Regions from separate parts of the Homo sapiens genome. Here regions 1 and 2 are each linked to region 3. Evidence: fine-mapped expression QTL. A gene starts in region 3. Each other region holds a variant in brackets. All regions are shown on one strand. Distances are from middle to middle. Region 1 has its middle 6.7 kb from the start of TRAPPC12-AS1. Region 2 has its middle 18 kb from the start of LINC01304. Region 3 holds the start of ADI1 (acireductone dioxygenase 1).

What was found. PIP is the estimated chance that this variant, and not a neighbour inherited with it, causes the effect.
Region 1: its variant is fine-mapped to the expression of ADI1 in tibial nerve (GTEx, PIP 0.93).
Region 2: its variant is fine-mapped to the expression of ADI1 in putamen (GTEx, PIP 0.99). The same link has a PIP of 0.9 or more in nucleus accumbens.

The regions. Positions count from the first base shown.
Region 1 is chr2:3,488,593-3,491,354 of GRCh38, reverse strand. No RefSeq gene overlaps it. Among named protein-coding and RNA genes, the nearest start is that of TRAPPC12-AS1, 6.7 kb to the right of the region's middle. The variant A/T (reference allele first, on the strand shown) is at 1,685.
Region 2 is chr2:3,991,069-3,993,830 of GRCh38, reverse strand. No RefSeq gene overlaps it. Among named protein-coding and RNA genes, the nearest start is that of LINC01304, 18 kb to the right of the region's middle. The variant T/C (reference allele first, on the strand shown) is at 1,558.
Region 3 is chr2:3,518,383-3,521,144 of GRCh38, reverse strand. ADI1 (acireductone dioxygenase 1) reads left to right here and starts at 1,614. Exons shown (of 4, transcript NM_018269.4): 1 at 1,614-1,777. The coding sequence starts at 1,658. LOC124907725 (a long non-coding RNA gene) reads right to left here and starts at 1,599. Exons shown (of 2, transcript XR_007086195.1): 1 at 1,189-1,599. RefSeq lists enhancers at 906-1,426, 1,427-1,948 and silencers at 1,368-1,497, 1,568-1,887, 1,968-2,027, 2,508-2,707.

The DNA of each region.
Region 1 (2,762 bases), 30 kb after region 3:
GATGAATTTCCTGAAGAACTTGGAGGAGACTTTCTCCTTTCTGAAAATTAAACGTTCAGATCAGCACATGATAGGAATCTGGGTGGTGGAGGAGAAGATGTGGGTCAGTCTCCCCAGTGCCCCAAATCCAGTGAAATGACAACAATTTTTTAAAAAATTAAGTGTGTTGTTTTAAAAAATACAACCACAAGTTTCTGACGATCTCCCTCAATTTATCCTCCCCTTCAGCATGGTCTCTGTTGGTCACTTGTTTCTAATGAGTAGGAAGCGGCTGAGGTGGCTGTGGGTGGCCTCTGTTGGCATGTAGTTTCCTGCTTGCTCTCAGACATTGCGCTCTGGGGAAGCTGGCTGCCACGTCCGCAGGACACTTGTGCAGCTCTCTGGGGAGGTCTGAGGCCTCTGCCAGCAGTGCTGCTGGCTCGGGGTGTGTGGAAGCAGGTCCTCCAGCCCCCGTTGAGCCTTCAGATGATGCAGCCCCAGCCGTCACCTTGAGGGCAACCTCAGGAGAGCCCCACACCACCCAGCTAACCCGGAGACTGCAGGCGAGAATGTATGTTCCTGTCATAAGGCACAAGTTTCAGAGCAGTGTTGTTACATGGCGTAGGTAACTGGTGCCTAAGTGTGACTCCCTAACCACAGTGCTCACCTCCACTCAAGAAACTGCTGACGGTGGATCAGACATCTTGACAAAGAGAAACCAATGGAACAGACATCTGAGAAATAGGAGAAGAGCTGTCCTAGTCAGGCAACGTCCGGCCTCGGAGTGGATGGGGAAGGATGGAGGCAGACAGGTGGGATCGCAGTGGGGGGTGCATTCTGTCCCCGCTCCCCAGGCTGTGCGGACCCACAGGGCAGAGGCTGCCGGCCTGCTGTTCCCTCCTGCACAGTGCCTGGGGCGCCAGGCTCATGGGGTGCTCTCAGTGGAGAGGTTAGAGGGACTAGGAAGGAAGACCTCTTGTCCCAGGCAACCTGCAGAGGCCGGGAGCCCTGGGGGGAGGTCCTGGGAGGAGCCCTGGGGGGAGGTCCTGGGAGGAGCCCTGAGGGAGGCTCTGGCCCTGCATCTGCCTGGAGCTTTGCCCAGGATTGCCGTTCTCGTCTTCCCAGGATTCCGACTCTGTGCTTCGAAATGTCGTTACACGATCTCTTCTGTTGTCTTAGTTGGGGCTCTTTTTGTTACAAGTGACAGAAGCCCAATGTGAAGGAGCCTGTGCCTGGGGGTGCCTGCCCTGGGGGATCAGGGACCAAGCCACGTCTGCTCACGGTGGGACACAGTGTAGACACAGTGTTGACGTCTTAAAGCCTTACTTCTCATTCCATTACGCAGAGGAGTGACTTCAGCTGCCAGCCCTGGTCCCCAAGGCTCCAGGAGAGGTTCTGTGGGACTAGACCCAGGTCAGCGGCTCTGACAGGGACAGGATCGCGCAGCGCAGACATGGCCGTCGGCTGAAGGGCCTCCTGTGGTGCGCAGGCCACTGCCGGCTCATGTCCAGGTCATCTCTCCCGCGCTGCAAATCCTGCTTGCCCAAAGTAAAAATGGAGCGTGTAAAGTTAGCACGGTGGACATTTGTGCACTTATGGGACAGAGGAGGCTTGAACTTCATTCCGAGGGGAAAGAAGCCAGCCCTGGCTTTCTTACTCTGTTAGATAACCCTGTCTCTCTAGGTTTCAAAAATATCTTCATCCC[A/T]TCGCAAGTGACCAGGAGGGACTTCTGGGCCTCACCCAACTCACTACCGCAGTGAGTCGCTAGTACTGGTAAGATGACCTGTGGGTTGGGTCAAGGGCTCCCGGAGTCCTCTGCCTGCTATGATGCGTGAAGTTCTTCCATTCACCATGTCTCTCAGTGAAACTCGGTCCCACAAGCCCCTCCGGGAGAGCTGGTTTTGTCCCCTGAGTGCCGAGATGCATAAGAAAGTGGCTGGTGGGTTCCTCAGGACGCCACAGTCCAGTGAGGAGAGCAGAGGGTGCAGCAGCCCTTACGGCCGGGTGAGGGGTACGGGGGCTCCAGGCAGGCACAGCTGCTGAGAGAGAGGGGTCGGGGCAGTCGTCACCATCAAGTGGATGGCTGAGGCAGGACGTCCCTGCGGGCTGATTGTCCCTGGTCCTGACCAGATTTGCTGTGACCACCTGGCTGGGCCCTGAAGAGGGCAGAGGAATTGCTCAGGTGGGGCCAGGGCACAGGGCTGAGGCCTGCAGTCGGGCCGTGCCAGGTTGCAGATAACATCCGGGGCACCCCTGAGCAGGCGGCTCTTCTGAATCGCTCTGTGTTTTGCTCTCTGTTTTCTGCCTTGGGAAGTGATTATTTTTCAAAACATTCTCTTAAACGTGGCGGGGGCAGGGCACTAGAAGCATCCAGGCATGAAGACAGCCCCCAGGTCAGCAGGGCTGGGGAAGCTGGGCTGGGCGGGGGCTGGAGGACAGGAGGCTGTGCTCCTATCACGGTCTGTCCCTGGCGTGAGCAGTGCAGGTGTGACAGTTCTGGGGTGGAGCTTACTTTTCAACTGAAACCACTTTCCCATGGACGTGCTTGCCTGCCTGCCTTTATTATTATAGTTTAATGTGTTTCATTGTCCATGTTAAAAATGCTTGTGTTTATTTTGCACCAACTGTTCAAAAAAACCCACCCATTCTAAAATCCAAATAGGATTTCATCTGAGTTATAAACCCACCCATTCTAAAATCCAAATAGGATTTCATCTGAGTTATAAACCCACCCATTCTAAAATCCAAATAGGATTTCATCTGAGTTATAAATACAACAGCCT
Region 2 (2,762 bases), 470 kb before region 3:
AACGAGTCAAGAATGTCCCCTTCTCATCACTCCTATTTAATATCATGCTGGAATTCCTACCTAGTGCATGAAATAAAGGAACTAAATAAATAAAGAAATAAAACTATTTCTAGTCACAGATGATATGATTATCTATGTAAAACATTCTAAAGAATCATAACACTCCTGGAACTAATAAACGAGCATAGCAAGGTCACAGGAGACAAGGTTAACCTATAAAAGTCAACTGCTGTCCTATATATGAGAAATGAACATTGGGATTCAAGATTTTTTTTAATATATCTGTTCCAATAACCTGCTCCTCTCCCAAAATTAAATACTTAGGTATATATCCAACAGAGTATGTACAGAATCTATACATAAAAAACTACAAAGAAAATCTAAATAACCGGGGAGATATTCAGTATCCATGCATCAGAAAATTCAATATTGTTAAGGTATTAATTCTATCCAACTTGACTTATGGACTCAACATGATTCCAGTCAAAATCTCAGAAAGTTATTTTGTAGAAATCAACAAGTTGATTTTAAAGTTTATATGAAAAGATGAGACCTAGAACAAACAATACAATAAAATAGAAAAAAAAAAGTTGAAATACTTAACACTACCAATTTCAAGATTTGTTGTAAAGCTACAGTAATCAATACCACATGATACTCATGAAAGAAAAGACAAATAGATCAATAGGGAACAGAATAGAGGGCCCAGAAATAGACCCACATAAATATAGTTAGCTGATACTTGACAAAGGAGCAAAGGCAATTCAGTGAAGAAAGGGTAGTCTTTTCAACACATGGTGCTTTAACATTTGGATGTCCATATCCCAAAAAAAGAACCTATATGCAGACATTACACCTTTCACAAACATTAACTGAAAATGAATCATACGCCTAAATGAAAAATACAACACTAAAAAACTCTTAAAGGGAAACCTTTGTTTCCTTGGATTTTGTGATAAATTTTCAGCTACAACACTAGAAGCAGTTTCGTGAAAGAAAGCATTTAGGTTGGACTAATTAAAATTTAAAGATTCTGCTCTATAAAATATACTATTAAGTGATTGATAACACAAGCCTCAAACCTGGAGAAAATATATGAAAACCACATATCTAATTACAGATTTGTATCCAGAATATATAAAGAACTTTTACATTCAATAACAAGAAAACAACCCAAGGAAAAAGCAGACAAAATATCTGAACAGATACCTCACCAGAGACAATATACAAATGGCAAATAAGCATATAAAAGGTTCTCAATATCACTTGCATTAGAAAACTGCAAATTAAAACAACACTCTTAAGGGCAAAATATTTTTTAAAAACGGACAATGCCAAATGCTGGCAAGTTCCCATAGACTTCTGGACACCTTCTGTGCTGACAATTGGAAGTCATTAAGAAAGTTTCTCAAAGGTGTTTTTGTGTCTTCAACTTTTGATAGGAATCACGTTCTATATAAAAGCTGTTGGCCTCAGTAGAGAACATTTGAACAACTCATAAACAATCTTAACTAAACATACGTAGAGAATTTTAACCAAGAATTATAGAATAAATAT[T/C]TTTAATGCATGAAACATTTAATTTATAAAAATTTAATACCTAAAAAACCACAAGGCAAGACATCACAAATGGCAAAAAAATTGATATTTTACAGATCACAGTTTCTGACTACAGTACAATTGTGCTGGAAATCAGTGACAAGCCACAGCAATGCCCAAACATTCTTTTTTCATTATTATTTTTCTTGTAACATTTTTAATAAATCATAAAAAATCATAATAAAAATTAAAAACTACTTAAGATTTAACTTAAGAAAATACTATATATCTAAATTTGTGGTATGCTGATAAAATATTGGGAAGTTTATATTCCTAAGCACTTTTATTAGAAAATAAGAAAAACTGAAAGTAATCATCTGATATGGTTTGGCTGCATCCCCACCCAAATCTCATCTTGAACTGTGGTTCCCATAATTTCCGTGTGCTGTGCAAGGGACCTGGTGGGACGTAATTGAATCATGGGGGCGGGTTTTTCCCTTGCTATTCTCATGATAGTGAATAAGTCTCATGAGACCTGATGGTTTCATAAGGAGTAATTTCCCTACACATGCTTTCTTGCCTGCTTCCATGTAAGACATGCCTTTGCTCCTCTTTTGCCTTCTGCCATGATTGTGAGGCCTCCCCAGTCATGTGGAATTGTGAGTCAATTAAACCTCTTTTTCTTTATAAATTACCCACTCTTGGGTATGTCTTTATTAGCAACATGGGAACAGGATAATACAGTAAACTGGTATAAGAAGTGGGGTGCTGCTATAAGGATACCCAAAAATGTGGAAGCGACTTTGAAACTGGGTAACAAGGAGAGGTTGGAACAGTTTGGAGGGATCAGAAGAAGACAGGAAAATGTAGGAAAGTTTTAAACTTCCTAGAGACTTGGAGGGATCAGAAGACAGGAAAAGGGGGGAAGTTTGGAACTTCCTGGAGACTTATTGAATGGCTTTTACCTAAATGCTGATAATAATAAGGACATTAAAGTCCAGGCTGAGGTGGTCTCAGATGGAGATGAGGAACTTTTGGTGAACTGGAGTAAAGGTCACTCTTGCTATGCAGAGAGACTAGCAGCATTTTGCCTCAGCCCTAGAGATCTGTGGAACTTTGAACTTGAGAGAGATGATTTAAGGTATCTGGTGGAATAAATTTCTAAGCAGCTAAGTGTTCAAGAGGAAGCAGGGCATGAAAGTTTGGAAAATTTGCAGGCTGATGAT
Region 3 (2,762 bases):
TCGAAGGTCAAAGCAACATGACTTGCTGATAGATTGGATTGGATCTTGAGGGTGAGGAAAAGCAAAACTGAGAGTACACCTAGATTTTTTTATTAAGCCACTGGGCAGTCAGTGCTGCCGTTCACTGAGACGGGAAAGGTTAGGGAGAAGCATGTTTGGGGGTGTGTGTGGGGAATCAGTTGTTTTGGCCATGTTAGGTTTGACACACTGATTAGCCATGTATGTGACAACACCAACTGGATACTCAAGCCTGAGGTTCTGGAATGAGGTCCAGGTTGGAGATGTGGCTGCAGGAGCCGGCAGCACAGCATGGAAAGTCGCCTGGAGTGAGTGGATAGGAACAGGACGAGGAGAGTCTGGAACGCTCCACTAACCAGTGGTTAGAGGAGCAGGAGCTAGGAGGGGCCTGGGAAGGAGCAGCCAAGATGCCCTCATGAAGGAAAATGAGAAAATGTTTCAAGAAGGGCGTGGGCAACTGTGACGAATGTTGCTGGTAAGAACAGAAGTGCCATGATTGGATCTGGCAATATGGCAGTCATTAGCAGTTCCCCAGTGGTGAGAAGCGAAGCCTTATTGCAGTGGCTTAAGGAGAAAATGCGAGGTGCGAGATTGCCATTAGATTCTTGCATGAAGGTTTGTCATGAGTGCTGCAGAAAAATGGGCAATGGCGTCTAAGGTGTGTTCTTGAAGGATGAGTAGTAACTGGTCAAGTGAAGAGGTGGAGAGGTAGGCTCTCTAAGGAGGATGTATTTGCAAAGCCATTAGAGCAAGGGAACAGAAATGAAATAAGTGTGTATTTTTCTTGCAATATTTCTGGAAGTTCAAGAGTCAATTGCATGCATTGGGGTTGTGCTCTTACAGCAGTCTCATTTAAATCCTGTCTGCTTTATCGTTATTTGTTAAAGAGACTGAGGGAATGGCTGAGATAATCTGATCTTTTTCAACTCGTTGGTTTGAAAAGACATCTAGGATGGTCAAGCGGCTGGACTTTATTAGCTACATTGAAAAATTCAGAATGGGATAGGGGAAGCTTGTTTTTATTCTAAGACTAGCACATTACAGTGTATGGGGAAGGGAGAAACGATGAAAAGAGGAAACAAGAGGAAGTTTAAAAAGTACAGGGTAGCACTGCAGAATGCCGACACTGCAAAAGTCTGGCGAGCGGGGAGGTGGAGGACAATGTCTCACCTGGGATCCGAGCTGTGAAGTCTCAACTGTGCCCATATGGACTGCATGAGCTTAACAAAATCCTTATTCTTTTTTTTTTTTTTTTGCATTTGCTTTCCATACTCTAAACACGTTTAACGTCGTTTGCCTCACAAGATTGCTCTGAAGGTGCAGGGAGACCGCGGCAGCACACACAAGGCACGTGCGATGCCTACGGTGAGCTTCACCTGCCCGGCGCGTCTGGCGAACGGCTGGCCCCGGGCCGCGGGCCTCAGGCAGGTCCGAGGGTGCCCAGGACAGGGTCGGGGCTTGAATGCCTTTGCTTCCGAAAACAGCGGAGCCGTGGGGCCTCCCCCGCGCCGGCCCTGCCTCCAACCAGCCGCCCAATCCCGGCTCCCATGCGCGTCCACGCCTCCCTATAAGATAAAGCGCGGCCGACGGGCTCCGAGCGCGGCCCCTGGGTTCGAACACGGCACCCGCACTGCGCGTCATGGTGCAGGCCTGGTATATGGACGACGCCCCGGGCGACCCGCGGCAACCCCACCGCCCCGACCCCGGCCGCCCAGTGGGCCTGGAGCAGCTGCGGCGGCTCGGGGTGCTCTACTGGAAGGTACGCGAGCCCAAGCCTCGCAGAGCGTGCGGGCGACGCCGACCCCCAAACGCCGCGCACAGCCCAGCCTCCTCCAGGTGCCGGGCAGCGGCCTGGGAGCCGCGGCATGCTGCGCATGCTCAGCAGCGGGATTTGGGGGTTCGTGGCGGCTCCCGGTGCCTGGGGTGGGCTGCGCATGCTCAGCAGTGGGGCTGGGTGGTCAGGGCCTCCTGCGCGGCGCCTGGGTGTGCTGCGCATGCTCAGCAGCGGCGTTGAGGGGTCGGCGGTCAGCCCCCAGCGCCTGTGGTGTGCTGCGCATGCTCAGCAGCGAAGTTTACGGGGTTGGCGGTCGGCTTCCGGCGCCTGGGGTGGGCTGCGCATGCTCAGCAGCGGGGCTGGTGGGGGTCGGCGGTCCGTTTCTGTTGCCTGGGGTGTGCTGCGCATGCTCAGCAGCAGAGTTGGCGAGTCAGGGGCCTCGCAGCCGGGACTCGCTGCGCACGCGCAGCTCCGGGATTGGCAGCGACCTGAAGGGTCGGCCGGCAGGGCTGCAAGATTCGCCGGAGGCGGGCTGCGAGTTCGTGGGCTCGTTGGGCTTGTCCGACGCCCTGCCTGCCTGGCTAACCTCGGTCAAAGGCCCAGGGGTTTCTTCTATCGGAGGAAGGGGGACTCCGCTTGAAAGTGTCCTGGGGGAGGGACCGGGCGCCAGCAGATCGAGGCGGGGTCCTGCCGCGGTCTGTCGGGGATCCCCGGGGGGTAGCGCTCGGTGGTGGGGTGGGGGCGTCTCCAGTGGGCGGTGGAGCTGGCTTGGGTCCCGGCTGGGCCCGGTGTCAGCCCTGCCTCTGTAACGCTAGCTTTGCAAGGCGGGGCTAGGCTTTGCACCGGTGTCCCGTTGCTTGCACAGCACCAGTCCAGATCCGCTCACCTTGTTTATTTGCAAATGGTTTTGCAGTAACAAAGGTTTACTGCAAAAGAGAGGGCCAGGGTAGGCCTCAGGGATAGGCTGAGG